Linked DNA regions of Homo sapiens. The protein of the gene in region 1 interacts with the protein of each later gene in a biochemical or structural test. Each region holds a gene or a part of one and is shown in the gene's direction. Other genes may lie near its edges. The genes, in order: KNG1, KLK1, CD93 and PLG.

The links.
Region 2: the proteins of KNG1 (region 1) and KLK1 form a complex in vitro, tested with the Homo sapiens proteins (one study listed by BioGRID).
Region 3: the proteins of KNG1 (region 1) and CD93 form a complex in vitro, tested with the Homo sapiens proteins (one study listed by BioGRID).
Region 4: the proteins of KNG1 (region 1) and PLG form a complex in vitro, tested with the Homo sapiens proteins (one study listed by BioGRID).

What each region holds. Positions count from the first base shown.
Region 1 is NC_000003.12:186,712,713-186,720,369, forward strand, and holds the start of KNG1 (kininogen-1 isoform 1 precursor), read left to right. Parts: upstream 1-4,646; 5' UTR 4,647-4,830; coding exon 4,831-5,025; intron 5,026-7,392; coding exon 7,393-7,503; intron 7,504-7,657. UniProt on the Homo sapiens protein: Kininogens are inhibitors of thiol proteases.
Region 2 is NC_000019.10:50,820,624-50,828,457, reverse strand, and holds the start of KLK1 (kallikrein-1 preproprotein), read left to right. Parts: upstream 1-4,670; 5' UTR 4,671-4,709; coding exon 4,710-4,755; intron 4,756-6,586; coding exon 6,587-6,746; intron 6,747-7,834. Other genes in the region: KLK15 (kallikrein-15 isoform 4 preproprotein), read left to right, coding at 643-796, 1,297-1,580, 1,701-1,837, 2,510-2,662.
Region 3 is NC_000020.11:23,082,953-23,091,005, reverse strand, and holds the start of CD93 (complement component C1q receptor precursor), read left to right. Parts: upstream 1-4,681; 5' UTR 4,682-4,813; coding exon 4,814-6,747; intron 6,748-7,031; coding exon 7,032-7,056; 3' UTR 7,057-8,053. UniProt on the Homo sapiens protein: Cell surface receptor that plays a role in various physiological processes including inflammation, phagocytosis, and cell adhesion.
Region 4 is NC_000006.12:160,712,219-160,719,655, forward strand, and holds part of PLG (plasminogen isoform 1 precursor), read left to right. Parts: intron 1-767; coding exon 768-907; intron 908-2,575; coding exon 2,576-2,696; intron 2,697-4,426; coding exon 4,427-4,545; intron 4,546-6,075; coding exon 6,076-6,238; intron 6,239-6,474; coding exon 6,475-6,620; intron 6,621-7,437. UniProt on the Homo sapiens protein: Plasmin dissolves the fibrin of blood clots and acts as a proteolytic factor in a variety of other processes including embryonic development, tissue remodeling, tumor invasion, and inflammation. In ovulation, weakens the walls of the Graafian follicle.

The sequences.
Region 1 (7,657 bases):
CAGACAGGGTATATCCTGGAATTTCTTTATGGCCAGCTCCTACAAAGAAAGGCCCAGGGGGGAAGGTAGAGCTATATTTTAGGTTTTATGGCTGTTTGGGGGCAGAGGTATTTCACTTTCTGGGACCTGCCTGGGGGAAGAAGAATTCTAGTTTCTATGGTGCCTTAAGGGAGAAAGGAGAGCAGGAGAAAGTAGAGTGGGAGAAGGTCAAACAGATCTCGCTTCTGAGGCCCTTTTGGTTTCCTTCAGTTCAAAGGACTCAGCATATCAAGGCACCACAGTTTGGAACATCGTATTCTGGGTCCCAACAATATTCAAGCGAACACAGGAGTGGTAAACGTACTGGGGCTACGTAATGAAGGCGGATCTATTAGGATTGCATGGGAAGAGGCTTCAGCTGTGTAGTGATGCATGGGTAGGATTTGCATAGGAAGAGGGTCTGGGTAAAGGCATTCCTGGTGAATTCCTGGCACCACTACTTCTAGGTGGGTAGGGAATCAGAAAGAAGGGTGTTGGGGAATAATTGAATATAAGCAGGGGGTTCCAGAAGTTCTGTGTGGGCTCTGGAGCTGTCATTATTTGGGAGATGAGCCTGTGGGCTCATCTTAAGGCAAAACAAGGCTACTGTTTTCACTTCGATTCTTTGCTTACCTGGAGTGGATTTGAGTGGCTGAAGACATTATGGAAAGACATGAAGCCTCCCTTCTCTCTCCCAAAATAAACTACTCCCTCTTTGGTGAAACAACTGAAATCAGGAGGACAGACCAGGAGCACTACAGAGTACCACAGGAGTGCTACAAAGCAATGTACCCTTCTTAATGTATCAGAGAGGGAGCACTGCAAGTTGTAGAGAACAGGAGTGCTGGAACTTAGAATTCCATTCAGTGACCTTACTCCCATTCCAGACTCTGCTCCAGGTTATAGCACAGCGTGCTTCAGCACAGAGCTACCTCTGAGAGCTAGCATACAGAGTGGGTGAGTGGGAGAGGCCCCAGGGTGCCTGGGGAATCTCAGGCAGGCGACAGGGACATGAACTTGGAAGTTATTTTATGTATGCGGGAATGAGGGCCAGACCCAGGCAGTGGGAATTAGGGCAATGAGAATGAGGAATAGACATGAGAGATACTGCCAGTTGGTTGATGTTTGTCATGCATTTAGAAAATGCAAAGTTAGGCCGGGCATAGTGGCTCATGCCTGTAATCCCAGCACTTTGGGAGGCCGAGGTGGGTGGATCGCCTGAGGTCAGGAGTTTGAGACCATCCAGGGCAACATGGTGAAACCCCGTCTCTACTAAAAATACAAAAAATTAACCAGGTGTGGTGGCACGCACCTGTAGTCCCAAATACTTGGGAGGCTGAGGCAGAAGAATCGCTTGAGCCCCAGAGGTGAAGGTTGCAATGAGCCGAGATTATGCCACTGCACTCCAGCTTGGGCCACAGAGTGAGATTCCATCAAAACAGAAAGAAAAGAAAAAGAAAAAGAAAGAAAGAAAAGAAGGAAAGAAACAAAGAAAGAAAGAAAGAAAGAAAGAAAGAAAGAAAGAAAGAAAGAAAATGCAAAATTAAATAGACTGCAATGTATACAAGCCATGAAGTGAATAGAAGGCTAGAAGGAGAAGCATATAAAATGAATGACAGTGGCACCTCTGAGAAGAAGCTGGGGTGCAGGATGGGTGATTTTTCACACTCTTCTTATATTCATATCATTTGAACGTTTTCAGTGAAATGATATTCACCTTATCACTTAGGTGGTACATTTTGTGAAAGGCAGAATGAAGAATGGTGTTGAAGCACAGGCAACTCAGGTCTCCAGGGCAGAAGGGTTGGCCTAAGGGCAAGGCAGCAATGGTATGGTTTTCCTCACCACCACCCATGGGGAAGCCCAGTGCTGGTGCCTGCTCATGTCTAGCAGACAGCCATCCTCCTGTCTTAGTTCACCTTTCACAGCTGGGTTTAGGGGCCTCTAGAGCACAGGAGTGCCAGCCAGTTGTAGCCCTTGTACTTAGGGTAGAGCCAGCAGACACTTACCTTGACAGGATCTGTGAAAACCCATCTTTATGCTGTATAGTTCCCTTTTTTTTCAACACTTTCCTCCATGGCAGAAAACCACAACAACTTGAAATGAGACACTTCACCACCTGTGCTTTCTTCAAAGTGTACACGAGGACAGATTGTTGAGCCACTGGTGGGGCGATCTGATCATATTACTCTGATTTTTCTAAAGCTCTTCTTCCTTTGCTGAAAGACTGGAAGCTCACAACTCTGGCTGGGCATCTTCAGTTCCCCATATGCATACACACACACAGACACACACACACACACACACACACACACACACGCTTCTCTCCTCTTTGAACGTCTTTGGATTCTGCAGAGCAGATTTGTCCTATGATGTCATAAACTGTGAAGTCTTCAACCCTCAGGTTGGTTTTCTAAGTAGGCTTTGTTATGAGCAGTACCAGACTAAGTGGTATTTGCACACACATAGTGTCTTTGGTTCTTATGGCTCTGGGTGTGTGTGTGTCTGTGTGTGTGAGGGAGGAGTAGGGGAAGAGATACAACACTCCTGGGGAAGGGAGTGCAATTGCTAGTATCACATAAAAAGTATGAAAACTTTTCCAAGAATTAGGGAGGAATACGATTTGGCAGAAAAGTAAAGTCATATCCAATTCAATCAACCTTGAATGAATTTAAAGGTGCTCCTTGTAGTTAGGACGCCAGTGCTGAGGCTCAGTCATTGCTAGCTTTTAATATTAGACATAGCATCTGGGTGCGGTGGCTCACACCTGTAATTCTAGCACTTTGGGAAGCCAAGGCAGGCAGATCACTAGAGGTCAGGAGTTCGAGACCAGCCTGGCCAACATGGTGAAACCTCGTCTCTTCTAAAAATACAAAAATTAGCTGGGCGTAGTGGCAGTCCCCTGTAATCCCAGCTACTTGGGAGGCTGAGGCAGAAGAATTGCTTTAACCCGGGAAGTGCAATGAGCTGAGATTGCACCACTGCACCGCAGCCTAGGCCACAGAGCAAGACTCTGTCTCAAAAAAAAAAAAAAAAAAAAAAATTAGGCATAGAATCTAAGAATAAATTTAACCTGAAATTTATAAGTGTATATAAAATAAGATGCAAAACCATGTTTTACATCTCTCCAAGAAATCTTTGTTCTATTTTATAGGTGAGCACAAAGATTTTCTTTACATAATTTTTTATCAGAAACAAAAAGATTGAAAATAGTCCAAACATCTATGTCCTGTGTCAAAAAAAAAAAAAGGAAAAAAGAAAGAAAAAGAAAAATTAGGTTTGTCCTCATGAACATGGCTCTACAGACTTTTTAAAAAAATAAAGTCTGAACAAGGAGCAGAGTGAATAGGCCGAATTTTTTTTTTTTTTTTTTTTTTTTGGACAGAGTTTTGCTCTTGTTGCCCAGGCTGGATTGCAATGGCGCAATCTCAGCTCACTGCAATCTCCACCTCCCGGGTTCCAGCAATTCTCCTGCCTCAGCTTCCCGAGCAACTAGGATTACAGGCATGTGCCACTACGCCCGGCTAATTTTGTATTTTTAGTGGAGATGGGGTTTCTCCATGTTGGTCAGGCTGGTCTCGAACTCCCGACCTCAGGTGATCCACCCATCTCAGCCTCCCAAAGTGCTGGGATTACAGGTGTGAGCCACCGTGCCTGGCCAATTTTTACTGGAGTAAGGATGTTGATACCATCAAGCCTCACACTTCTGCTGAGATTATCAACTGTAGTTTTCCAATGTTGGTCTACAGGTGGGGACCATTCTGTAATATAGTTTCCCCACTCTGTGTTGATGTGAGGAAAATAAGAATAATAAAGTTTTATTGCTGGCTTTGAGGGAGAAGGGTTCTATGACCCGCCTTGGGGAAGAGAAATTCTAGCTTCTGTGGCCTGCCTTGAGAGAAGTGGAGCAGGAGAAAGACGGGCAGGAGAAAGCAAGAAAGAGACTTTGCTTTTGCAGCCTTTTTAATGTCTTTCAGTTCAAAGTACTCGGCATGCCAAAGAGCCATATTTGGGGCTATCTTTTTCTGTGCCAAACCAACAACACCAAACCAGAAAGAAGCAAGCATAGGGAATCCAGGGCTTCACTCAACCCATCCCTTCCTATGCTTTTCCTCTATCTCCACCCTGGGAGCAATTTTCTTTTACAGAACTAATGCAACTGAGCAGAGAAAGGCTGGCCTGTCCAGAGAGCAGATAGGACGCCCATATTTTATTTTCAGTTGTGCCAATGTCCTGCATGGGACTCCTGGAACTCACTGGATGCCCCTGTGCATGAGCTTCTTAGGCATGTAATAGAATTAACAGCAGTCTGCTTCTATGCAGGTAGGTATCCTGCAAAGAAACTTTGTATGAAATGTGTCTGCACATTGTACTCATTCTTGCATTGTTTACCCATGTAGTGACCTTCAAAAATGGCTTTGCAAAAGTCACAGGGGAATAACCGAGTTAGTAGGCACTTGTTTCCCCTCCTTCATCAGATTCTGCTCTGATTTGCTACATAAAGTTGTATAATCACCTGGAAATATGCACTGTGCTGCCACGTGATTTTCAAATGCAAATGAGCAGGTTAACAACCCCAGTGTTGCAATGTTCTAGCTGTAAATATGTTTGGATAACCCAGCAGAGCCATTTAACCTTTGGGAACAAGGCAACTAGCGTCTGGCAGCAGGAATCCAACCAGTGCCCTGAGTTCTGAGGCAGAGAGGAGGACAGAAGAAACAAGAGGCTGGAGATTGTCAAATTCAGTATCCCAGTTGGCTCTTGATTCTTGGTGAAACCATCCCTCAGCTCCTAGAGGGAGATTGTTAGATCATGAAACTAATTACCATCCTTTTCCTCTGCTCCAGGCTGCTACTAAGTTTAACCCAGGAATCACAGTCCGAGGAAATTGACTGCAATGACAAGGATTTATTTAAAGCTGTGGATGCTGCTCTGAAGAAATATAACAGTCAAAACCAAAGTAACAACCAGTTTGTATTGTACCGCATAACTGAAGCCACTAAGACGGTGAGTGAATTGTGTTTAACCTTGAAGTCACTTGGGATTTGTACTATCACTAGGAGTCCAGGCCTCACACACACACACACATACCACCACCAGCACCCACCACCACCACCCACCACCCACCACCATCACCCACCACCACCACCACAACCACCACCACCACCCACCACCACCACCACCATCCACCACCACCCACCACCCACCACCACCCACCACCATCACCCACCACCCACCACCCACCACCACCCACCATCATCACCCACCACCACCCACCACCATCACCCACCACCCACCACCACTCGCCACCATCACCCACCACCATCACCCACCACCCACCACCCACCACCACCAACCACCACCATCCACCACCACCAACCACCACCCACCACCACTACCACCCCTCACCACCCACCACCACCGCCACCCACCACCCACCACCATCACCCACCACCACCACCATCCACCACCACCACCCAACCACCACCACCCACCACCCACCACCATCACCCACCACCCACCACCACCCACCACCCACCACCCACCACCATCACCCACCACCTACCACCCACCACCCACCACCACCACCACCCACCACCACCCACCACCCACCACCACCACCACCCACCACCACCCACCACCACTACCACCCCTCACCACCCACCACCACCGCCACCCACCACCCACCACCATCACGCACTACCAAATATGTGATCATCAAAGGTAGAAGCTTACAACTTGTGGAAAGACAGATACCACTCTCTGGCCTGGGGTGGGAGGACAGAGTATGACTCGTCCTCAGGCAGGTTGGCTTCCTGGATGATCAGAGAAGTAGAATCTAGGGTGAAATGAAACAAAAGTAGATGGAGAAATCTCAACAGGACCAAGTAGAGAGGGAGAATTTAGGAATTTAGTTAGACTGCAGCAAAAGAATTCACTGGGTCTCTGGCCCTAGGCTAAAAACTATAGAACTCCAAACCTTTAATGGGAGGGGGTACTTCATGGGGCATGTCTAAGAGGAGTGAGGAATGAGGTTAATGTGATTCTACGGAATTAGACAGAAGTCTGTATGGCTGAATGTACTGGGTTTAACAGCAACGTTTTAGTTAGTTTTTGATATTATTGCAATGATGCACTCCAGCAGGAGACAAATCCTGGCAGGATGCATGGTTCAAAGAAATACCAATCTTTCAAGAGTATGTTTAAACAAATTTCACTATAAAAGACTATATCTCTGGGAATGTCAAGCAATTGGTTACTTTAGCAGAAAAAAAAAAACTAGCCATGTGACAACATGGGGATAAAGGAAAATAAACACAGTGGACATGTTATTTTTTCTGAAAGTAAAATCGAGCCATTTTCTTTCATAATCTAGTACAGTCATGTGAGAAATTCTGCTTCATGGTGATCTCAAGCAACAGTTTATTGGTGGTGTGGTACCCAATAGATTGTGGGTATGGTTGTAAATATACTAAAAAACATTAAATTGTATGCCTTTAGTGGGTAAATTTTATGGCATGTAAATTATATCTCAATAAAGCTGTTTAAAAAAGAAAAAGTAGGAAACAAAATAAACCAAATAAAAGTACTAAAATCACCCATAATTAATTCCACCATACAGAGATAACTGTTAACATTTGTTTAAGGTTTTCTTGTTTGCTTTTTCTAATTTGTAAAAGTCATATACGTTCATTAGGGGAAAAAGACCACTTAGAAATGTTTGCTTGGGCCGGGCGCGGTGGCTCATGCCTGTAATCCCAGCACTTTGGGAGGCCAAGGCGGGGGGATCACGAAGTCAGGAGATCGAGACCATGGTGAAACTCAGTCTCTACTAAAAAATACAAAAAAGTAGCCAGGCGTGGTGGAGGGCGCCTGTAGTCCCAGCTACTCTGGAGGCTGAGGCAGGAGAATGGCGTGAACCCGGGAGGCAGAGCTTGCAGTGAGCCGAGATCACGCCACTGCACTCCAGCCTGGGCGACAGAGCGAGACTCCATCTCAAAAAAAAAAAAAAGAAATGTTTGCTTGAAGAAGAAAGTGAAAGATAATTATAATCTCACCACTGACAGACAAACATTTTAACAGCTTGCTGTGTATCTTTCCAGACTTTTAAAAGACATAGATTTATATATAAACCAGTTTTGACAAAAATGGGCTAATACTATGCATACTGCTTTGTAACCTTTAAAAGTACATTGTGAATATATTATAAACATTCTTTCACATAAATGTTTATGATAGAAATATAAATATATTTTAAGTGAATGCTTTGCTCTCAAGTCAAAGATCAATATTCCTAACTTTACCGGAACCCACTAGAATTATTTGCTGTTGGGTCAGTTGGATGAACCCTAAGTATCTTTGGCTGCTTTTCAGGTTGGCTCTGACACGTTTTATTCCTTCAAGTACGAAATCAAGGAGGGGGATTGTCCTGTTCAAAGTGGCAAAACCTGGCAGGACTGTGAGTACAAGGATGCTGCAAAAGCAGTAAGTGTATTGGCCATTCTTGGGCCTTCTGTTTTCTCCGTTGACCCTGCCAGATTTTTTTACTGATGCAGAAATGATGGCTACTGGTGAGCCTGTTTATGAGAAATGCAAATAAACATTCCAATGTGTAGAAAAGTCAGATGCTTTATATCTG
Region 2 (7,834 bases), on another chromosome or scaffold:
TCTGTGACAATTTGGTGACCGTGAATGACTGGTTTCAAGTGACCACCTGTCTGAACCTGTATCCAGTGCCCCTGTCTCCACCCCCAACCACAGAGGACTTCTTGCCCTCTGGTCTGTTCCCCTTCCTCTCTCTCCCAGAGTCTTATAGCAAATGGGGTGGGGGCTAGAGTTCTGGAGAAAACAGGCAGCGGTTGTAAATAAACAACAGGGCAGGCGGAGCATGGTGGCTCACACCTGTAATCCCAGCACTTTGGGAGGCTGAGGCGGGCAGAGCATTTGAAGTCAGAAGTTTGAGACTACCCTGGCTAACATGGTGAGACCTCGTCTCTACTAAAAATACAAAAATTAGCCAGGTGTGGTGGCGGGCACCTCAGCTACTCGGGAGGCTGAGGCAGGAGGATCACTTGAACCCAGGAGGCGGAAGTTGCAGTGAGCTGAGATCATGCCACTGCACTCCAGCCTGGGCAAAAGAGTGAGACTCCGTCTCAAAAACAACAACAACAACAAACAAAAACAGGGCAGGGTGTCTTGAGAAGTTAGGGGAAAGGCATAGGCATATAGTAGTTAGGGCAGGGTGCAAGGAAGGTGTAGGAGGCAATGTAAACGTCCCTGTCCTCAGGCATCCTCTACCCCTTCTCTTAGCAGCCCAGGATGGTGACAAGTTGCTGGAAGGTGACGAGTGTGCACCCCACTCCCAGCCATGGCAAGTGGCTCTCTACGAGCGTGGACGCTTTAACTGTGGCGCTTCCCTCATCTCCCCACACTGGGTGCTGTCTGCGGCCCACTGCCAAAGCCGGTATGAAGGCAGGGGCTCAGGGTCCTGAGGGAGCCTGGTTCGGGGGGAAGAGCTCCTAGATTTGGGGGAAGACGGAGGCAGACGCCAGAACTCCTGGGTTCTGAAAGACGAGGAGGCCGGATGTCAAGCCCCTGGGTTAGGAAGGAGTGTGTGTTTCAAAGCCTTCGATCTCTGAAGGAGGAAGGAGAAGACTAGTTCCAGCTTTTGAGCCTCAGTTCTAGGGATGTGAGAATCCTGGATTCGGGGACAGACCAGGAGGGGGCTGGGAGTAGTTGGAGGGGATCGAGTTCTAGGAGTGTGCCTGACTTCAGACTCGTTGGTCCTTGAGGAGCAGGGGCTGGAACCATTGGCTTCAGGGTCTTGGGAAAAGGTAATGGGATGTCGAGATTTCTAAAGGGTCGGGAGACCTCGGGTTGCCCACTCTTTGATCTTTCTGTCCTCTACTTGCGGGTAACCACTGGCCCGCACTCCACTGGCGGGAAAACCACTCGCCCGCACAGCTTCATGAGAGTGCGCCTGGGAGAGCACAACCTGCGCAAGCGCGATGGCCCAGAGCAACTACGGACCACGTCTCGGGTCATTCCACACCCGCGCTACGAAGCGCGCAGCCACCGCAACGACATCATGTTGCTGCGCCTAGTCCAGCCCGCACGCCTGAACCCCCAGGTGCGCCCCGCGGTGCTACCCACGCGTTGCCCCCACCCGGGGGAGGCCTGTGTGGTGTCTGGCTGGGGCCTGGTGTCCCACAACGAGCCTGGGACCGCTGGGAGCCCCCGGTCACAAGGTGCGTGAAAGGATGGAGCTGGATGCGAGGCCTCAAGGAATCCTATGCTCCAGGGCTCTTGGGCGGAGGGGACAAGGGCCGGAATTTATGGATCTGCTCCAAGTCCACTGTCTTCCCCAGTGAGTCTCCCAGATACGTTGCATTGTGCCAACATCAGCATTATCTCGGACACATCTTGTGACAAGAGCTACCCAGGGCGCCTGACAAACACCATGGTGTGTGCAGGCGCGGAGGGCAGAGGCGCAGAATCCTGTGAGGTCAGAGCCTAGAGGGGCCATCAGGCGGAAGAAGAGGGATGGGGACAGGTGTGGGAGTCCGGATGGGGTTGGATTTTCTTTGCTTTGGGCCAGAGAAGATGCTAGGGTTAGGCTTGGAGATGGAGTAGGAAGAGAAGTTAGAATAGGGGTGAGGTTGGAGTTGGGGTTATAGGTGGGGATTGCGTTGTTTGAGGTGGATAATGTGATAGTTAGTTTGAGATGGCATGGGTTGGGGTTGAGAATGGGAATGGTTTGGTTTGATTCTGGGTGGGAAATACGTCAGGGTTGAATTGGGATGAGGTAGATTTTGTTTGGAATGCAGAAGACATGAAGATTGAGATTGGATTTTGAGATGGGCATGGGTTTGATTTGATTTTGAATGGTGAGGATGTGGGCTGAGTTGGATTTAACTTAGTACAGTTGCACTGGAGTTGCATGGGGGTGAGATTGGATATAGGTTGGGTGAGTTGTATTGAGCTGTGTTGAATTGGGGTTGGGGTTGGGGTTGGGTTGGCTCTGTTTGGGATAAACTGGGCTGTATTGAGTTGAGTTGGGTTGGGGTTCCCTGGGATGGGGATGGATTGGGTTTGGGGTGAGATTGCAAATGGTGATTAGGATGAGGATGAATCCAGGAGGTTTCACTCAACCTGAGACCCCCTCTTTTCCCCACAGGGTGACTCTGGGGGACCCCTGGTCTGTGGGGGCATCCTGCAGGGCATTGTGTCCTGGGGTGACGTCCCTTGTGACAACACCACCAAGCCTGGTGTCTATACCAAAGTCTGCCACTACTTGGAGTGGATCAGGGAAACCATGAAGAGGAACTGACTATTCTAGCCTATCTCCTGTGCCCCTGACTGAGCAGAAGCCCCCACAGCTGGCCAGCAGCCCCGCCTGACATGGAACAGAACGGAGCCATCCCCCAAGACCCTGTCCAAGGCCCAGATGTTAGCCAAGGACTTGTCCCACCTGAGGACAAAGCTGGCGCTCAAGGTCACCTGTTTAATGCCAAGATAACAAAGCGCTGATCCAAGTTGCTCTGTAGGAATTTCTGTGACTTTTTTCTGGGGTCAAAGAGAAACCCCGAGACACTGTACACTGTTCCTTTTCACCCACCACCCCGATCCCTAGGTGAGGAGAAGCGGCTTGAAGCAGGGCTCCATTCATTCAACACACATGACCACCCGTGTGATCTTGAACAAGAGGCCCAATCTCACTTCGCCTTGGTTTCCTTATCTGTAAAATGAGACCATCTTATTGCTGACTTCAAAGGGCTGTTGTGAGGATTAAATGAGATGATTCGTCTGAACTGATTAAAATCGTGTCTGGCACTGAGTAAATACCCTCTATCTCTGGATCCCAGTTAAAGGACCTAACAGACACTAGATTACCAAGAATGGCTTTTTCTTTAAGGTTTAGTTCTGGGCCGGGCATGGTGGCTCACACCTGTAATCCCAGCACTTTGGGAGGCCAAGGCGGGCGGCTCACTTGAGGTCAGGAGTGCAAGACCAGCCTGGCCAACATGGTGAAACCCCATCTCTACTAAAAATACTAAAAAAATTTAGCCGGGCGTGGTGGCACACGACTGTAATCCTAGCTACTTGGGAGGGTGATGTGGGAGGATCGCTTGAACTTAGGAGGCAGGAGTTGCAGTGAGCCGAGATCGCGCCACTGCACTCCAGCCTGGTGACAGAGCAAGACTCCATCTCAGAAAAAAAAAAAAAAAAAAAAAGATTTAGTTCTGGGCTTCCTGGTAGCCATGGCAAAAAGGCAAATACTGTCCTTTCCTTAGCCAGGTCCCTGATATACAGCAGAGGCTGGAACTCTGAGCTGCTTTGATTTTACCAAAAAGCCAAGACAACCTGTTGGAAGCCTATGGGTTTACCATTGAGGCTGCAGGAATCTAGTTCCTAATTATCTTCAGAGACCACAAAATGTGATGTTCAAGGTCGCTGAATGTTGAAGTACATGAACCTGGCTCGTGAGACCTAAATATTGTACTGGTGGTGGGGGGGAAGGGTCATTGGAATCTGTGGTTAGCCTGATCTTGACCTGGGAGGGAAGGTTGTCCAGATCTCTGGGACTTTGGAGGACAGGACGTTGAGCACCCATAACTGGGAGCAAGAAGTGGGAGGCTCATTGAGACCCCAGCATTGTTTGGGAGGGACACTGGATTTTGTAATGCTAAAGAACTTACCCTGGGAGACCCCTGAAACTTCACATTCCTGGATCTGGAGGCACTAGGAATGTGGTGATGTGTACCCCAAAATTTTATTATGAAAGGAACAGTAGCTTTGGGGACCTAGGTCCTGGGTCTGGGAGTGCAAGAACCAGGGCATTCTGAAGGCCAAGGCTTATATTTCAGGGGGAACTGGCAGCTGAGATGCTAGTATCTTGGCTCCGAGTGGTGCAGGGAATCAGAGCCCTAACTGCTGGTGTTTGAGGGCACCAGGTCTGGGGGTGCAGGGCCTTAATTGAGACTGAGGTATATGGGGCTTTGTACCAGGGGTCACTGATTCCTCCGTCTTCCTGTTTCTGCTTCCCCTCAGTCCCCCCTTGCCTCACTGGCTGCTCCCCAGAGCAAAGCCCCAGAGCCACAGGCCCTGCCCCACCTGGCTTCAACCCCAGGAATGCGTCCAGCGTGATCCAGGGCCTGCAGAACAGGTGCTGGTTCTCCCTCCCCGTCTACAGCTCTGGGGATCGGAGGGGGGGGGGGCAATTGTCCAGCCCCCAGGCAACAGGGGAAGGGCCTTGGCCAACATCTGGGTGCCAGCAGGGCAGGGGTGGGGCTCTGAGGGGATAAGGGCTTTTAAAAGCCTCCCCAGGGAGGTTCCCCAGTTCCTCCACCTGCTGGCCCCTGGACACCTCTGTCACCATGTGGTTCCTGGTTCTGTGCCTCGCCCTGTCCCTGGGGGGGACTGGTGAGACAGTGGGGGGATGTGGGAGGGGGAACGGGCCCTGATTCTCTTGCTGGCCTCACATCCCCCCCCGATAAGACCTTCCCCTCCAACACCCCACCCTCATCCCTCTGGCCCACAGTCTATCCTAGTCCGGGGTGCCCCGGCTCTTATCTATCTTGCGCGGCCCCACCCTAAACTTCCACCCCCGCTCCTCCATGTTGTCATAGTGCTCACTCCCACACCAGATTCCTGCTCCTCCCAGGAAGCCTCAGTACTTTCTCCTCTTCCCTAGCCAACGCCCTGTCCCACCGCTTTACCAAAGGGGCAGATTCTGGGCCATCTCTGTCTCTCTCTGGAGGACCCCAACCCTCCCATGGGCTTCCCCCACCCCACAGGACTCTGATCATCCCCTCCTGCCCCCTAGTTCCCTGCGGCCACCTATTTGGCTCCTGAGTCTACAAATCCCACCACACTCCAGTGACTTTTTCCATCCAGCTGTCCGCTCTCAACTGTGTCCTCCAGACCCTGACATCTGGTCTCCCCAGTCCTTCCAGGGTCCCCCAAATTTCACCAGAAAACCCTGCTTCCCAAACTGGCATGTGGGATCCCCCATCTGGTATGGGGGGGGGTCTGCAAATGTCCCTTCCCACCCAGCACCCCCAGCTCTCCCAGGAAAAACACCACACCCTCCCACCACATGCTCCTTTCCTTGGGGAAGTTCCATCCCGCCCCAGGCCCCAGCCCTTCTCTGCCTGAATTGTTCCTACACAGCTCTGGTTTTCTGGAACCCCACCCCAAGGATCCTGAATGCCTTCTCAGCCAGCGCTTCTGCCCTGGCCTCCCCCAAGTCAGTATGTGATTCTACAACCTCACGTCAAGTGGGTCCTGCATTGCATTCCCACAGCTGCTTGGCGCCTGTTCTCACCACTTCTCCAATCCTCTTCCTAGGATTGCCTCCAAGAGGACCCCATATCCTTCCAGTACCCTCAGACCATGAACCCCATCCCCATGAGAAACGAAGATCCCATCCTTCACCCTGTCCGAGAAGGACTGCCACTCACGCCTCCCTCCTCCTGAGCCCCGTCCCAGTCCTGACCGCAACTGTGTTCTCAGGGCCCCAACCTCCCCTCAGATTGCCATTCCTGGTTCACAGGAAGGACCCCAAAACCTCTCGGAAGCCCACCTCTAGCCTTAACCATAGCCCTTTCTTTTACCCTTTAACCAGGAAGCCCTGAAATCTAACTGTCCCAGCCAAGCTGGCCCCTTCCAACCCCAATGTAGGGACCCCAAGTCACCCCCAAACTCTTCAGTCCAGATGCTCTTCTTTACCTCTCAGACCTGGTTCCCTAAAGCTGCATCCTTTCCTGAACCTCAAAAGCCCAACCCAGGTCCTGTTTCCCTAGCCTAGGAGCCCCTTAGCCCTCCAGATTCTTCCTCAGTGAGCCTCTGATCCTGTCCCACCCTTGGCGCCTTGATCCCTGGTTTCCAGAATCCCTTTCCACTCCCCTAACCCACCACCTCCCATCCCCCAGCCCCAGACCCCAAATGACCTGACGCCCAGATGCAGTGTCTGCTCCAGACACTGTCTCCTGTCTCCTACCCTGATCCCTGGAGGCTGCTCTACTGTCAGAGCACAAAATCTCCCCACCAGGTCCAGCCACCACTCCAAAAGCCCAGGGAACAGTCCAGAGTCCCACCCCTTCCCAACACCCCTTGCCCATGTCCCCAACCTCCAGCCCTGGTCCTCTACCCGCAATGTCCCTTCAGACCCACAGCCCAGCTCCCTCTCCTAGCCTTGTCCCTGGCCTCTCCTGCCAACCCTGCCCTTCCTGACCCAGCACCGCCTCTGCAGGTGCTGCGCCCCCGATTCAGTCCCGGATTGTGGGAGGCTGGGAGTGTGAGCAGCATTCCCAGCCCTGGCAGGCGGCTCTGTACCATTTCAGCACTTTCCAGTGTGGGGGCATCCTGGTGCACCGCCAGTGGGTGCTCACAGCTGCTCATTGCATCAGCGAGTGAGTAGGGGCCTGGGGTCTGGGAGGAGGGCATCTATGCTGCCACAGGATTGACAGGCCAGTGGCATTCCCCTTGGATAACCTCAGGCAAGACTGGGGGGCTGAGGCAGAGAGGAAGGCTCTGGCGCAGGTCGCCTGGCAGGGCAGAGCTGGGCTGGACACCCCTCTCCAAGGCTGCCTGGGTCTCTTGGGATCTGGTTCTGCTTGTGTCTCTGTGTGACTGTGTTCTGGTCTCTGTCTTCCTCTCTCTCCTCTGTCTCCTTGTCTCTGCATCTCCCCTGTCTCTGTCTGTCTCTGAGTCTCTCTGCGGCATCTCTGTCACTGTGTCTCACCCTCCATCTCTCTACCCATCTCTCTCTCTCTGGGTCTCTACCTCACCGCTCCCTCATCCCTACTAAACACACACCCAGATGGACCTAAGGGAGGCCCCAGAGTAAAGGAAGGGCTTTATCCCCAACTTGTGTGCCTGGGAGGGGGCGCCTCTCCCTCTGTCCAGCTCCCCGCCCCACAGGATATCCCTCCACTCTGGAGAGACACAGGGAAGGGCTGGTTTCAGCGGGAGCTGGGTGGGGCAACTGAGGGAGGAGGAAGGAGGAGGCGGGGCGAGAAACGCGCGGGAGGGTGCTGGGAAGGGAAGGGGGCCTCGACCTTGGACTTCAGGCCAGGCCACCTGCCCCTGGGGAGCCCGCACCACAGCCCCAGCTGCAGCTGAGCCGCTCTCAGGCCTCCCCTCCTCCCTACCTGCCCCCACCCTCCCCACCTGCCCCCACCCTCCCCCAGGGCCTCCCTCCCTTTTCTCTCCCACACTCGGTCACTCCTGCTTCCTCTCTGCCTCTGTTTCTAGTTCTCACTCTGACGTCCCGCGTCCTTTTTCATTTGTCTGCTTCTCGCTCCCTTCCGTGTTCTGTTCCCTCTTCCTCCCTCTTCCCTGGGCCTGTTTCTCGCTGTCCCTGTCTTTTATCCTTCTCATCTGCCTCTTTTTTGCTCACCCTGTTTCTCACTGCCCTCCCCTCCGCCTTTTTCACCCCTCTGTCCTTTTGAGCTCTTTTTTGCTCTGTCTCTTCATTTGCCTTTTGCACTCTCAAAAT
Region 3 (8,053 bases), on another chromosome or scaffold:
TGTGCTTTGTTTCCCTTTTTAATTTAATTTTTAGTTACAAAAAAAAAAAAAAAGGAAAAAGACAGGCCGGATGCCTGAATGATCCACAAACCAATTAGTCTGCTCCCAAATAACTGAGATTAAACTCGCCCCATATTTGAGATCAGAACATTCCATTCCAGCATCGTGCAAAGTAAATTTTTAAGGCAATTTAAAAAGAAAGCTCAGAGTACTCATAAAGACTGCAGAATACACACAAATGGTGAGGAGCCTTTTGCTCAGGGTACATGCCATGCTGTTAGGCTCGCCATGGTTCTAGAACACCTAACGTGGCTTCCGTCCAAAGATCTGCCGAGAAAAACTTTTTCCATCTCCTTCTGCTGATTCCTGCTGTTTAAGTATCGGTCCTTGGAGAGGTCTGGTATAATCTGCTCTCTAAATAAAATGGGATGAAACACCATCCATGGGGAATTTAGTATGTGAGGTGCAGAATTCCCTCAAAGTTTGCATTCAGACTATCTTAAATTCTTTGTAAAACTCCACCAAATCCCTCCCAGGAAAAGCAAGCTCTTCATCCTCCCCTGAGGTCGAAGCACCATGCCCTCAGCCTCTACGAATCCCCTGAACAGCCTCTAAGGAGCGTCCCCTATAGGTGGGAGCGGACACAGAAGGGCGGGGCTGGAGCTAGAGAACCTAGCTGTAAGTGTCCCAGGTGAATTAACCCACCTGAGCCCAGCAGGGATCAGCCAAAGGGTGAAGGGACACAGTGGAAGTCAGATGTGGGGGACAAGGAATAGGAAACTACCCTGTGTCTTGGCAGTCAGCGGGTCAATTTGGGATGAAATTGGGTGTGTGCAGTTTAGACAGAGGTTTGCTTACATGTGCAGTATGTCGAGGGCTCAGCAATGGTCTCAGTGTCCACTCTCTTCCCAACTTGCTTTCTCCCTAATTCCAGAGGGGAGAGTTAAGCATGATTTCACTTTTATTAATGTTAGAGCAAGAAAGTTTCCAGAGGCCCTGTTCCCACCTCTGCATTTATAGATGAGAAGTGGGGCTGAGTTAACCAAGTTACTGAAAATAATAAAGTAAAATCCAAGGACCCCCAGGGCAAGGCAGTTTCTGCATTTTACATAGTCTTTCTCACTGTTGGTGCTTTACAAATACTTCCAAGGTTAATGGATAAAAAACAGAGTATATGTCTTGCTAGTTCATTTTCTTCTTTAAGATGTCATCACTTGGCTAAGTGAACAGTAATTGGTTTGAAAGTTCCCACATGGAAGATGAATAACTTACAGCTAAAGAAGATATCTTGACAAAGATCTGGGGGTCAGAGTGGCTAACATGCTGAAAGTCACTCATTTAGCCCATATCCTTAAGCACCAACTAAGTAGAATGCTGAGCGAATGCTGCAGATCACAATCTACCTCTGAGGAATCTACCTCCGAGCTGCACAAACAGGGGCCTAGACCACGAGAACGGCTCCCTGCTATGAGTGGATGCTAGGGCTGCAGAATTGATTTTACAGAATGTTAAGAAGTTACCTGCTTGTAAATAAACCCTTAGAAATGAAGCTTCTCCCAAGCAGAGAACAAGACTGACCCTTGCCAAACTCAAATGCATGGCCAGCTATATTGACTGGGAGCCAGGGACACCAGCCTTCCCTGGACCCCTCACAGCTGGCTGCTTACCCAGCTCTGGTGGCACACTTAGCGTCCCGAGGAGGCAGGTCACAAGGACAGGGGGTCTGGGAGACCCTGAGCCCCAAGAGGCAATCCCCTGTGTTCTCAGAACCAGGTACCTCCAGCGGACACAGCCTTCCAGGACCCCAGCTCCCGGCAGGAGCCATGCAGTCCTTCTGCGTGCCCGGTGCCCTTCCCCCCACCTCCACCCAGCCCCGAGAACATCTGACCTGGACTCCACAGCCTGGAAACCTGCGGCCACCTGCTGAGGGCCCCCCCACCCACTGCTTGGGTCCACTGACCAGTCCCCTTCCACATGTAGGCCTCATGCCAGCCCTCAGTGTTTCCCCGTGGATTTCAAGACGAAGCCTCAAGCCTTCATTACTGGGGTTCACAGGGCTCCATCTTCCCCTGCATCCTCCCTCCCACTGCCTGGGCTTTGGTCTCCCTGCCCTTCACTCACTCTCTGTCCCCAGGGCTTCTGTACATGCTGTTCCCCCATCCCGACACCATTCCACATCTGAGCTGCTTCTCCTTTAGATTCCGGCTTGACTGCCTGTCTTCTCCAGAGGAGTCTCTCCTAATTGCCCATCCCCCAGTCAGGATGCCACCCCTGTATCAACCACGACCTCCCCGCTCCCCTGTGCTGCCTGCAATAAAGCCATCAGTGCCGTGACTTGTTCAAAGTTGTCCACTCTAACAGGACTCCAGGATCACAGAGGCAGGGATCCCCTCCTGGAATCCAGTGCCTCACTCAGTGCATAGCAGGGTCTTAATCAACAATTGTTAGATGGGTGGATGGACAAACAGATGGATGAATGAAGGGGCACAGGGAGGGTCTGGTGGCTTCTATGGAGAGTTCCCAAAATGTCTCAAATATCTTTGCTAAAATGCAAGGACTTAAGGCACATTCTTAGGAGGTATCCAGCTGGAGTCAGAGATGCCTCCTTGTCCCTTGGGGAGCCAGCGAGCTCCTAGCCCCCGGGACAACTCAACATCTCCATGGAGGCCACTGTGGTGGTCGCTGGTGCCGGGTCCACAGGCGTTCACTGTGTTCTCCACCGTGGCGCTTCTTCCCCTGGGGCCCTCACGGTCAGTGCAGAGCACCAAAGAGTTGCCGCTGTGTAGAGAATTCTTATAATTGTGCATTGCATCCATTTTGAATCTAATTTGGACCCTCTCCTACCAGAAGCAGGGTTTATTGCTCTTGACACGGTGTCTAGGGCTCCACCCCCTCCCAGTTCCTCAATGCGGCCAACCCAGATATCTGCCTTGTACACCCACCTCCTGGTGACCATTTCCCTGTGGGACAGGCAGATACAGCCCATTTGATGGTCTCAGTGACTCCACACCCCACAGGGACTTCCCAGACATGCCGCCATGCCCACCTCTCAGCCACAGGGACCCCACGGAGCCCGTGTCTGTTTGCTCTAAACCCACCAGTGAGAAGTCCCCTTGGGAAACCTGCTTGGGAAACGTCCTGGACCCCAATAAAGGCTTAGGACCCAGGTCTCTCTCTCTCCCTTCACCCCCCTCCAGGTGAGTGTTTGTGACCCAGACAGCTCCCCACTTTTTGCTGGCCCCGTGGGGTGCACTGCCCTCTCCCTGGGATCTGTAAGTGACACGGTGCTTGTGTTGCTTCCTGTGTCTTCTTGTGCTGCCTCCTGCATCTCCCCTGACCCACACCCCAACCCAACTCTCCTCCCATCAGGGATCTCTTAGGAAGTGGCTGTCTTGATAGGAATAAACTGGACATGGGTCAGACGAGAGCCACAAGGGTGTCTGTCCATAGAAACAAGTTTTATGTGAGAGAGACCCCTGGTCACTGGGCAGGGCTAGAATTTATAGTCAGTCTCTCAAAGTGAGAGATACAGCCTGCTACCAATGACAGGGGACTTGGAGAGCAGTGGAGCCTCTCCCTCAGCTGAGATGGTGCTGAGGTGTGGTCCCCTCAGGCCCCCAGAGTTTCCTGGCACTGGCTCCAGCAGCCCAGGGTCACCTTCTCAGCAAGTCATCATGGGTTGGCTTCCTCCTTGTCTGTTTCACTTCCCCTCCCACATAAACTAGTCTCCCCAAATCCTGTCTCAGGGTCCCCTCCTGGGGGATCCCAACCAATGAGCAAAGGTCTGTGGCTGCAGGAAAAGCACACTGTGAGTCCCTGGCTTTTGCCGAGTCGCGGTGTCGCGGGAGGGCCTGCCCGGGCTTCGATTCCCGCTCCCTGCCCAGATTTCCGGCCCTTGCTAGGAATCCTGAGCCGGGGGAAGTGAGCCTGCAAGCCCTGCGCCACGAGGCCGGACACATTTTCATTTTCTTTCTGATGCTTTTTGTGACCCTGACACCTCACAATGCAATATTTCCACTATGAAACCCCCAGAACTGCCAAATTTCACCCAATTTGGATTAACATTATCGAGGAGCTTGGCATTATGTTGAAAACCCAGACATTCCCACGACCCGTATCCTATTTAAAAAATGCCTGTCTATTTAAGGTTCACGATGGGAGGATAAAAGAAAAAAGGCTCCCAAAGTCAACAGAGAACATGAGCTAGGCAAAAGGAAAGTCCAGTTTGCTTCTAAAAAAGGCTGAAAATTATAACCATCCATGGCCTTGTGTCTTAAGTCTCAGAATTTTTTTTTTCTCTTTTGGTGGTTTGCAAACCAAAGTGGAATTTTATTATGGGTTACTAAGGGAGCTTCCTCGAGTTCCTAGCCCCCAAAGCCCCTGCTCACTCCATGGCATGCCTCCGAGGCTCCTCATGCCATGAGAAAGAGAATGGAGCCAAAATCAAGCCGGCAGTATCTCGGGGCTGTAACGTCTTCCCCCCGTCGCTGTTTCCACAGTGCTGAGCCAGGGACCCGGCAGAGCTGCCTGACTCCTTTTATGAACAACAGCACCGTGATGAAGGCAGCAGGAGTCAGAGAACTATTCATTGCAGGAAGCCCCAACATCCGGTGAGAAATAAGAAGTACAACAGTACAGGATGCGCCTTGGGTCAGGGGGACGTGGAAAGCCCTCAGCCTTTGTGTCCTTCTCTGCGCCGGAGTGGCTGCAGCTCACCCCTCAGCTCCCCTTGGGGCCCAGCTGGGAGCCGAGATAGAAGCTCCTGTCGCCGCTGGGCTTCTCGCCTCCCGCAGAGGGCCACACAGAGACCGGGATGGCCACCTCCATGGGCCTGCTGCTGCTGCTGCTGCTGCTCCTGACCCAGCCCGGGGCGGGGACGGGAGCTGACACGGAGGCGGTGGTCTGCGTGGGGACCGCCTGCTACACGGCCCACTCGGGCAAGCTGAGCGCTGCCGAGGCCCAGAACCACTGCAACCAGAACGGGGGCAACCTGGCCACTGTGAAGAGCAAGGAGGAGGCCCAGCACGTCCAGCGAGTACTGGCCCAGCTCCTGAGGCGGGAGGCAGCCCTGACGGCGAGGATGAGCAAGTTCTGGATTGGGCTCCAGCGAGAGAAGGGCAAGTGCCTGGACCCTAGTCTGCCGCTGAAGGGCTTCAGCTGGGTGGGCGGGGGGGAGGACACGCCTTACTCTAACTGGCACAAGGAGCTCCGGAACTCGTGCATCTCCAAGCGCTGTGTGTCTCTGCTGCTGGACCTGTCCCAGCCGCTCCTTCCCAGCCGCCTCCCCAAGTGGTCTGAGGGCCCCTGTGGGAGCCCAGGCTCCCCCGGAAGTAACATTGAGGGCTTCGTGTGCAAGTTCAGCTTCAAAGGCATGTGCCGGCCTCTGGCCCTGGGGGGCCCAGGTCAGGTGACCTACACCACCCCCTTCCAGACCACCAGTTCCTCCTTGGAGGCTGTGCCCTTTGCCTCTGCGGCCAATGTAGCCTGTGGGGAAGGTGACAAGGACGAGACTCAGAGTCATTATTTCCTGTGCAAGGAGAAGGCCCCCGATGTGTTCGACTGGGGCAGCTCGGGCCCCCTCTGTGTCAGCCCCAAGTATGGCTGCAACTTCAACAATGGGGGCTGCCACCAGGACTGCTTTGAAGGGGGGGATGGCTCCTTCCTCTGCGGCTGCCGACCAGGATTCCGGCTGCTGGATGACCTGGTGACCTGTGCCTCTCGAAACCCTTGCAGCTCCAGCCCATGTCGTGGGGGGGCCACGTGCGTCCTGGGACCCCATGGGAAAAACTACACGTGCCGCTGCCCCCAAGGGTACCAGCTGGACTCGAGTCAGCTGGACTGTGTGGACGTGGATGAATGCCAGGACTCCCCCTGTGCCCAGGAGTGTGTCAACACCCCTGGGGGCTTCCGCTGCGAATGCTGGGTTGGCTATGAGCCGGGCGGTCCTGGAGAGGGGGCCTGTCAGGATGTGGATGAGTGTGCTCTGGGTCGCTCGCCTTGCGCCCAGGGCTGCACCAACACAGATGGCTCATTTCACTGCTCCTGTGAGGAGGGCTACGTCCTGGCCGGGGAGGACGGGACTCAGTGCCAGGACGTGGATGAGTGTGTGGGCCCGGGGGGCCCCCTCTGCGACAGCTTGTGCTTCAACACACAAGGGTCCTTCCACTGTGGCTGCCTGCCAGGCTGGGTGCTGGCCCCAAATGGGGTCTCTTGCACCATGGGGCCTGTGTCTCTGGGACCACCATCTGGGCCCCCCGATGAGGAGGACAAAGGAGAGAAAGAAGGGAGCACCGTGCCCCGTGCTGCAACAGCCAGTCCCACAAGGGGCCCCGAGGGCACCCCCAAGGCTACACCCACCACAAGTAGACCTTCGCTGTCATCTGACGCCCCCATCACATCTGCCCCACTCAAGATGCTGGCCCCCAGTGGGTCCCCAGGCGTCTGGAGGGAGCCCAGCATCCATCACGCCACAGCTGCCTCTGGCCCCCAGGAGCCTGCAGGTGGGGACTCCTCCGTGGCCACACAAAACAACGATGGCACTGACGGGCAAAAGCTGCTTTTATTCTACATCCTAGGCACCGTGGTGGCCATCCTACTCCTGCTGGCCCTGGCTCTGGGGCTACTGGTCTATCGCAAGCGGAGAGCGAAGAGGGAGGAGAAGAAGGAGAAGAAGCCCCAGAATGCGGCAGACAGTTACTCCTGGGTTCCAGAGCGAGCTGAGAGCAGGGCCATGGAGAACCAGTACAGGTAAAGGGGGCCCTGAGTGACCGGGGGAGGGGATGGGCAGGCATGGGGGCACTGACTACAGTACAAAGAGGTGGCAGCAAGAGCAGGCCCAGGTTTCCTGTGGGCAGACACACCCTGGTCCTTGCAGCTGACCCCTCAACCTCCCCCCACGCCAGGCACTCGGGCCCCCTTAGAGCATACTGCCCATCTGCAGCACGGCCGCACGTGGGGCTCTCTCCCAAGGTGGGGACGTGCAGGCACAGAGGCGCCATGGCTTCCAACGCTGTCTGTTTTGTTTCCCATAGTCCGACACCTGGGACAGACTGCTGAAAGTGAGGTGGCCCTAGAGACACTAGAGTCACCAGCCACCATCCTCAGAGCTTTGAACTCCCCATTCCAAAGGGGCACCCACATTTTTTTGAAAGACTGGACTGGAATCTTAGCAAACAATTGTAAGTCTCCTCCTTAAAGGCCCCTTGGAACATGCAGGTATTTTCTACGGGTGTTTGATGTTCCTGAAGTGGAAGCTGTGTGTTGGCGTGCCACGGTGGGGATTTCGTGACTCTATAATGATTGTTACTCCCCCTCCCTTTTCAAATTCCAATGTGACCAATTCCGGATCAGGGTGTGAGGAGGCCGGGGCTAAGGGGCTCCCCTGAATATCTTCTCTGCTCACTTCCACCATCTAAGAGGAAAAGGTGAGTTGCTCATGCTGATTAGGATTGAAATGATTTGTTTCTCTTCCTAGGATGAAAACTAAATCAATTAATTATTCAATTAGGTAAGAAGATCTGGTTTTTTGGTCAAAGGGAACATGTTCGGACTGGAAACATTTCTTTACATTTGCATTCCTCCATTTCGCCAGCACAAGTCTTGCTAAATGTGATACTGTTGACATCCTCCAGAATGGCCAGAAGTGCAATTAACCTCTTAGGTGGCAAGGAGGCAGGAAGTGCCTCTTTAGTTCTTACATTTCTAATAGCCTTGGGTTTATTTGCAAAGGAAGCTTGAAAAATATGAGAAAAGTTGCTTGAAGTGCATTACAGGTGTTTGTGAAGTCACATAATCTACGGGGCTAGGGCGAGAGAGGCCAGGGATTTGTTCACAGATACTTGAATTAATTCATCCAAATGTACTGAGGTTACCACACACTTGACTACGGATGTGATCAACACTAACAAGGAAACAAATTCAAGGACAACCTGTCTTTGAGCCAGGGCAGGCCTCAGACACCCTGCCTGTGGCCCCGCCTCCACTTCATCCTGCCCGGAATGCCAGTGCTCCGAGCTCAGACAGAGGAAGCCCTGCAGAAAGTTCCATCAGGCTG
Region 4 (7,437 bases), on another chromosome or scaffold:
GGGGGTTATCCCAAATAGGTTCACAGAAGAACCAGAAATAAAACCTGCCTTTCTAGACTGTAAGTCTTGTGATTTTCATCTAAATGGTTGTCTCTATACAGCAACTCATCTCTAGAACTGAAAATAAGCTTAAATCCCTCCTCCATCCCCAATAATTCAAGCTGCATTTCAGAGAAAACCAGGACTTTGGAATCAGACAGATCAACTTTGAATTCTTGATCTGCTTCTTCATAGCTATTTACACTTAGGCAAGTTTTGTTTTGTTTTGTTTTACGTTGCCACTCAGTTTTCTCATCTGTAAAATAGGGATAATAACACCTTCCTCAAATGGTTTTATTAGGACTAAAAGAGAGAATGTGTGGAAAGATGTTAGTGGAATTCCTGGCAGATAGTTCACATGGACAAAATGGTATTAACTACAAAAATTTTTACAGAGAAAACGGTAACTGACAAAAGCAGGTGTTTGGAATGAATTAAGACCATGGCAGCCTTTTGAGGCCTTTATATTTCTCCTGACTGTGCAATAAAAATATTTTGGCTCTCTAAGACTTGGCTGTCACAGTAGCAATGGTAATATTAGCTACTGTGCCAGAAGCAGCCTATCAATAGAGAAATTGAAAATCTGACCACACAAATGCTGCAGCACCCAGCTGAAATGCATTTGGATGACAATCTCAGATGGGAATCGAGAGCATCTCCTTCTGCCTTGCTAATAGCAAGCTGATTTTTAGAATATAGTCTAAGTGCTTCTTTTCCATCCTCCCCAGATTCTCACCTGCTACACACCCCTCAGAGGGACTGGAGGAGAACTACTGCAGGAATCCAGACAACGATCCGCAGGGGCCCTGGTGCTATACTACTGATCCAGAAAAGAGATATGACTACTGCGACATTCTTGAGTGTGAAGGTCAGGAGTGGTTCTAGAAAATGTTTTCATTTCTGCCCTTCACCTGTAAAATAATTTGTTGTAAAGCCCCTTCCCACAGGGATGTTATTAATAATTGAGTAACGTATTCACCTCTCGGAAAGAAGCAAAACCCCAGAATTAACCTGAATTTTTTTTTTTTCTGAGACAGAGTTTTGCTCTCGTTGCCCAGGCTAGAGTGCAACCGTGCAATCTCGGCTCACCACAACCTCCGCCTCCGGGTTCAAGAGATTCTGCTACCTCAGCCTCCCAAGTAGCTGGGATTACAGGCATGTGCCACCATGCCTGGCTAATTTTATATTTTTAGTAGAGACAGGGTTTCTCCACGTAGGTCAGGCTGGTCTTGAACTCTCGACCTCAGGTGATCCGCCTGCCTCAGCCTCTCAAAGTGCTGGGATTACAGGCATGAGCCACCATGCCCAGCAGACCTGAATTATTTTTATTAAAATGTTACATCAACATGTACAAATATAAAACTACATCTAAACTCTAAGTACAAACTTCTTATGCTTACAACTCTTACACAGTGTTAACCCCAAGACAGGTTTGCAATTAAATAGTTAAAATAAAACAACAAAATCAATAAAAATCAAATAAACAATATATATTTAATGTGGTAGACTTTGCTGTTTTGCTGAAGCTAAGCAAGGAACCAGTTTTTAAATCAGCAATCCATTATTTGAATGGACTGAGCAATTTAATAGTGCACCTCAAAGGTCAATGCTAAAAAATTTTAAAAAAATCCTACTGAAAAAACTGTCATCGTTTCACATTTCTGGCTACATTAGTGCAAAAGGGAATAAATAAAGGTGAGATTTGTGTGACAGTGTGGATATGGTACTGTGTGACAACTCAGTTCTCCCATCACTTCCACCTGTTCGAATCACGGGGATCCTTTATTTGTACACCATGTTATAGGTATTTGCCCTTAAGCACCACCAATGCATCACTGTTATATTAAGTCTGCCCGTTTTCCTTAGTACTCCATAAAATTTAAGTCACATATTACTCTGCCTCACCATGTTACTTCAATAATTCTGAATCAAAGTTTAAGTTTGTGAATAATTTTGCAAAAAAGAGCCAATCATGCTTCTCAACAACATAAAAAGAGAAGCGCTGTCACTTCAGGTGAATATTGTTCTCCCTGAGGCCATGAGCATAAACAAAAACTCCAGACTAAAACCCTGAGACGGTGCCAGGTCATTCAGCAGTCAGCGGAATGATCAGAATAATTTCATACAAAGTTTTAAAGATCATTATTGAAATGAAGATGCCAAATATTGAAAACTCCTAATGGAGAACGTAGACTCCTGGGAATATATGCACCCTTGGCTCCCCACTGGCCTGTGCATCCCGGTCTAAGGACATGGCATCATGGAAATTCTGAACTTGGTCATGACTACAATAGTTGAGGGAGTATTGACTAAAATATGTGAATGTTACGGTTTAAAAGGAAAATGACATTTGGATTATGCTAGAAAATCCTGAGTCCTTATTGCCAATTTTATTGCCAAGTGCCTGTTGTGAATTACATCGGAATGAGAGGCAAGTCGCACTTAAGTGAGTAGGATTCTGGTTTTTACTCTCTATTTTGCTTCATCCATTTCAGTTTTCTTCTTCCTCTCTGTCCTTCCTTCCCACTCTGTCCAGAGGAATGTATGCATTGCAGTGGAGAAAACTATGACGGCAAAATTTCCAAGACCATGTCTGGACTGGAATGCCAGGCCTGGGACTCTCAGAGCCCACACGCTCATGGATACATTCCTTCCAAGTAAGTCTCACTGGGAAAAACATTCCATGTTTAATTAAGGCTCTGCAGCTCTATCAGACATTTGCTGTCATTTAGATATTTTAGCATTCCTCAAGAAGTGAACGCCTGATGTTTTTAATTTCAAAGCTAACCTCCTCCCACAATATTGCAAGTGAAATACGCATTCTTGCTGCTCAAAATATGGTCCACGGGTCAGCAGCAGGGATGTTTTCTGAGAGTTTGTTAGAAATCCAGAATGTCACACCCTCTGAATCTGATTTGAATAATAACCAGATCCTCAGCTGATGTGCACACACATTCAAACACTAATGTCAGTAATGAATACATTAACATCTGTCTTCAGAAATGCACACACACATGTTGCTGGTGTATTTTCCAAATATTTTCCTTTTCTCTTTACTCCTTGTCTTTCTTTTCCCTTTGTACCAATGAGATTCAAGTCTCCTAACCTTTGACCTATGAGCAGACGTCATGGATTTTTGAATCCCTGATGTTTTATGTATATTTACATCAATGTGTTTTTCTGGAATGAGGATTCGTAACTTCCATCAGATTCTCTAAGGGGACCACGAATTTAAAATAAGAATAAGCTTCTTGCTCTAGAAAGTCATGATGGTTCCTAGAATAAGGTTTCGTGAGTATTCTATTTCACATTAATTGTGCTGGAAAACACCTCCCATTCCACAGTCGCTTCTGGTCTTCCTCTTCATTCTATGATGACTACAGGGCCATACCAGGGCTTTCAAGAATGCAGAAGTGAGGCTGAGCCACAGATTCCACGGTGGAAAGCAGCTCTATTGAATTTGTACACCTCCCATTCCAAATAGCTAGCTTAAAACACAGCAGCTGCCATTTTCCTTCAAAGGAGAAATACAGGAAAGACCTAAGGGTCCAAAACTGGGTAAAGGCACTTCCAGGAAACCAGAAGGAGAAGAGGATTGCTTAAGCCGCTGCTGGCTCCTCTTTCCATCCTGGTAAGCATTTACAATCAGAGAGGGAATGAATAAACGCAGAGGGCCACCAGGCATGGAGTGCATCCAACAGCCCTGGCCACTGGGCCCCACTGAGGAAGGATCCAGCCCCATACTGCATGGTGAGACCCTTGCAAGAGCACAGCTTCTCCTCTTGGTTTTTCTAAGCTTCAAGGCTGGTGGGAGCAGAGCCTGGTAGACCAGAAGGACCATTCCTTTAAGCTATGAAGATGCACATTTCTTGGCTCTGTTAGGTACTAGATGAGTATCTTTAGGCAGGGAGCACTTTACATTTTAAAGACTGCTATCATTTGTGGTTGAATAACTGGAATTTGCTTACATCAATTTTCCAGATGGCCAAAATGATAAGGTCACTGATTCTGTTGAGTGATTTTTACACATGTAAACTGTTAGAAAAACAGTGCTTGGCAGCCGGGCATGGTGGCACATGCCTGTAGTCCTAGTTACCTAAAGGGCTGAAGCGGGAGGATTGCTTGAGTGAGTTCAAGGAGTTCAAGGCAAGCCTGGGCAATAAGTGGGACCCTGTCTCTAAAAACAAACAAAAAAAAGAAAGTCCTTGGAATACAGGGCCAACCTTGTTTCCTTGTTGCCATCTCTGAACACAGCCTTCATCTGATTACCTCCTCCATGCCCGACTGTGCCTAGCACACAGCAGGTGCTCAATGTTTGCTCTTGAAAAAGAGTCTTATCCATGAATGTAAATGTTCAGTGCTACTAAAATCTTTCTTGTCCATTCAGATTTCCAAACAAGAACCTGAAGAAGAATTACTGTCGTAACCCCGATAGGGAGCTGCGGCCTTGGTGTTTCACCACCGACCCCAACAAGCGCTGGGAACTTTGTGACATCCCCCGCTGCAGTGAGTATGATGCACACCCAGATTCCAGGATTTGGACCTGCCCTGTTCTTGAAATCAAAAGAAAACATGTGTCAGTGCCTGAGTGCAGCCTCTGAAAAGTGACCTACAAGTCCTATGGGATGTTATTGGTCTTTATTTTATTGCTGGTTTAAAACAGTTATGGTTATTGGTTACTGTGGGTGATTGATCAGAGCGTCCATTTATCATGTTTTTCTTTCTTTGCAACTGAAACTTCTGCCTCAGGAGTTCACTGAAATGTAGGCTTTAGGTGTTGTTCATCCTATTCTCTCTGTGCTAAAGGGAAATCAGACCCATGCTCTCTGACACATGGATTTCATTTTCAACCAGAGTTCTAATAGTTGTTTTGTAAACAAAGAGTGTCTTTGTTTACAATGTTCAGGTCTGTGGGTGTCCAGTTTTTCCACCTTGGGGAGCAGAGGGTGAGTGGTGGGGGTGGGGAAGAGTTCAAGAGGAGAAGATGAAATGGCAGACCTAGTAGAAATGATGTGGAGTAAACAATTTTATCATATTTTCCTCTCTGAGAATTTGAAGCAAAGGATTACACACTAAGAGAAATACAGGCATGAAAGGTTAAAAAGGATTCAGTGAGGGTTGGCCTCCCCTCCTTTCCTCTGACATGTGTCCTTTGAAAGCGGAAGTTCCTCAGGCATTCTCCCTTTTTATGAATATTAATTTCTCTTTTTTTTTCAGTTTCTCTTTTTGTCATCTTTTTTCCTCAAGAATATCTTGATTTCTGGATGCACACACTTTTCCTTGGAGGTGTTTTTTGCCTTCTTTCCATGGACTCTTTCCCTGTTGTTTGGCTTTTATGGCATGTTGGGTGCCATTCAGTCATGTCTACTCAGTGAATAATTTATTCTTCAGGAAAGAGAGTGGACCTTTGGTGTATGTGAGAATTCGGGGTGTGAGGTGACACGTGTTGATACTTACCAGGTAGGAAGAACTGAGCAAAGAGAACATAGAAAGAAGCACCTACCCAAGGGTCTTTCTCTGAAGGAGTTCCTTGTGAAAGGGTCTCACAGGCATAGATGCTACTAAATTGATTTCATCTGAAAACATGAAACAATTCTCAAGTGCCAAATTCCAAGAGAGGCTGAGCAAAAGCCAAGACAGGCCAGAACACCCTGCAGCCATCCTCCTTAACATCCATCTGTGCATTCTCTATTTTAAAATTATTCATTGTAGGGCTGGGCACGGTGGCTCACGCCTGTAATCCCAGCACTTCCGGAGGCCGAGGTGGGCGGATCACGAGGTCAGGAGTTCAAGACCAACCTGGCCAATATGATGAAACCCCACCTCTACTAAAAATACAAAAAAATTAGCCAGTTGTGGTGACACGCACCTGTAGTCTGAGCTACTCGGGAGGCTGAGGCAGGAGAATGACTTGAACCCAGGAGGCAGAGGTTGCAGTGAGCTGAGATCGTGCCACTGACTCCAGCCTGGGCGACAGAGCGAGACTCCGTCTCAAAAAATATATATATTCATTGTAACTTATTTTGCCCATTCAAGCAACACCTCCACCATCTTCTGGTCCCACCTACCAGTGTCTGAAGGGAACAGGTGAAAACTATCGCGGGAATGTGGCTGTTACCGTGTCCGGGCACACCTGTCAGCACTGGAGTGCACAGACCCCTCACACACATAACAGGACACCAGAAAACTTCCCCTGCAAGTAAGTCCCCTCCGGTCTCATTCTGCTGCTATGGAATGTGAAATCCCATTGACTTTGCCTTAGTTTTAGTTACTGTAGGAACGCAGGATAAAGTATTCTGGAAGAAAAACTGATCTAGTCATAAGTAAAGGAAATGAACTTTAGCACGTTTTTTCCCGTAACGGTTGTTCTCAAAGCGTGGTTCCCTAGACTTTTTTCTTTTTGGAAAGCTAAACTCACAATCACTTCTTTTTCAGAAATTTGGATGAAAACTACTGCCGCAATCCTGACGGAAAAAGGGCCCCATGGTGCCATACAACCAACAGCCAAGTGCGGTGGGAGTACTGTAAGATACCGTCCTGTGACTCCTCCCCAGTATCCACGGAACAATTGGCTCCCACAGGTAAGCAAGGGTATGGGAGCTTACTGAGGGCCCAAGTTTTCTCCTTATTTTTGTATACCAGTGGCATCATCACAATATACAGTAGCTTTGTAAGTTTAATGCTATTGTGGTCAGAAAGCCTGCCCTTATGATTTCAGTTTTTTTAGATTTGTTGAGGTTTGTTTTATGGTTCAGAATATAGCCATCTTGGTGAATGTTTCATGTGCTCTTGAAAAGAATGTGTCTTCTGCGGTTGTTGGGTGGGGTGTTCCCTCAAGGTCATTTAGGTGAAGTTGGTTGCTGGTGTTCTTCTGTATCCTTACTGATTGTCTGTCTCCTCCTTCATTGACTACTGTGGATGAATGGTGATGTGTCCAACTTTAACTGTAAATTAGTCTATTTCTCTTTTAGATCGTAACTCTTTTGTATATTTTGAAGCTCTTTTGTTAGGCACATATGTATTTAGGATGGTTATGTCTTCTAGATGAAAGGACCCCTTTATCTTTATGTAATGTTTCTTCTTATCTCTGGGAATATTTCTTCTTCTGAAGTTCTGAACTCTCTTTATGGTGATATAAATACAGTCTCACAGCTCTATTTTCACTAGTATTTGTGTGATATATCTTTTAAATTTGTATGATATATCTTTTAAATTTATCTGAGCTTTTAAATTGAGATGTTCAAACCATTTGCATTCATGCAATTGTTAATAGAGTTGAATTTACATCTACCATCAAGTTAGTTATTTCTCTTTGTCCCATTTAAACTTTGTTCCTTTTTTCATCTTTTTCTGCCTTCATTTAGATTGAGTTTATCTCCACTACTCACTTAGTAAATT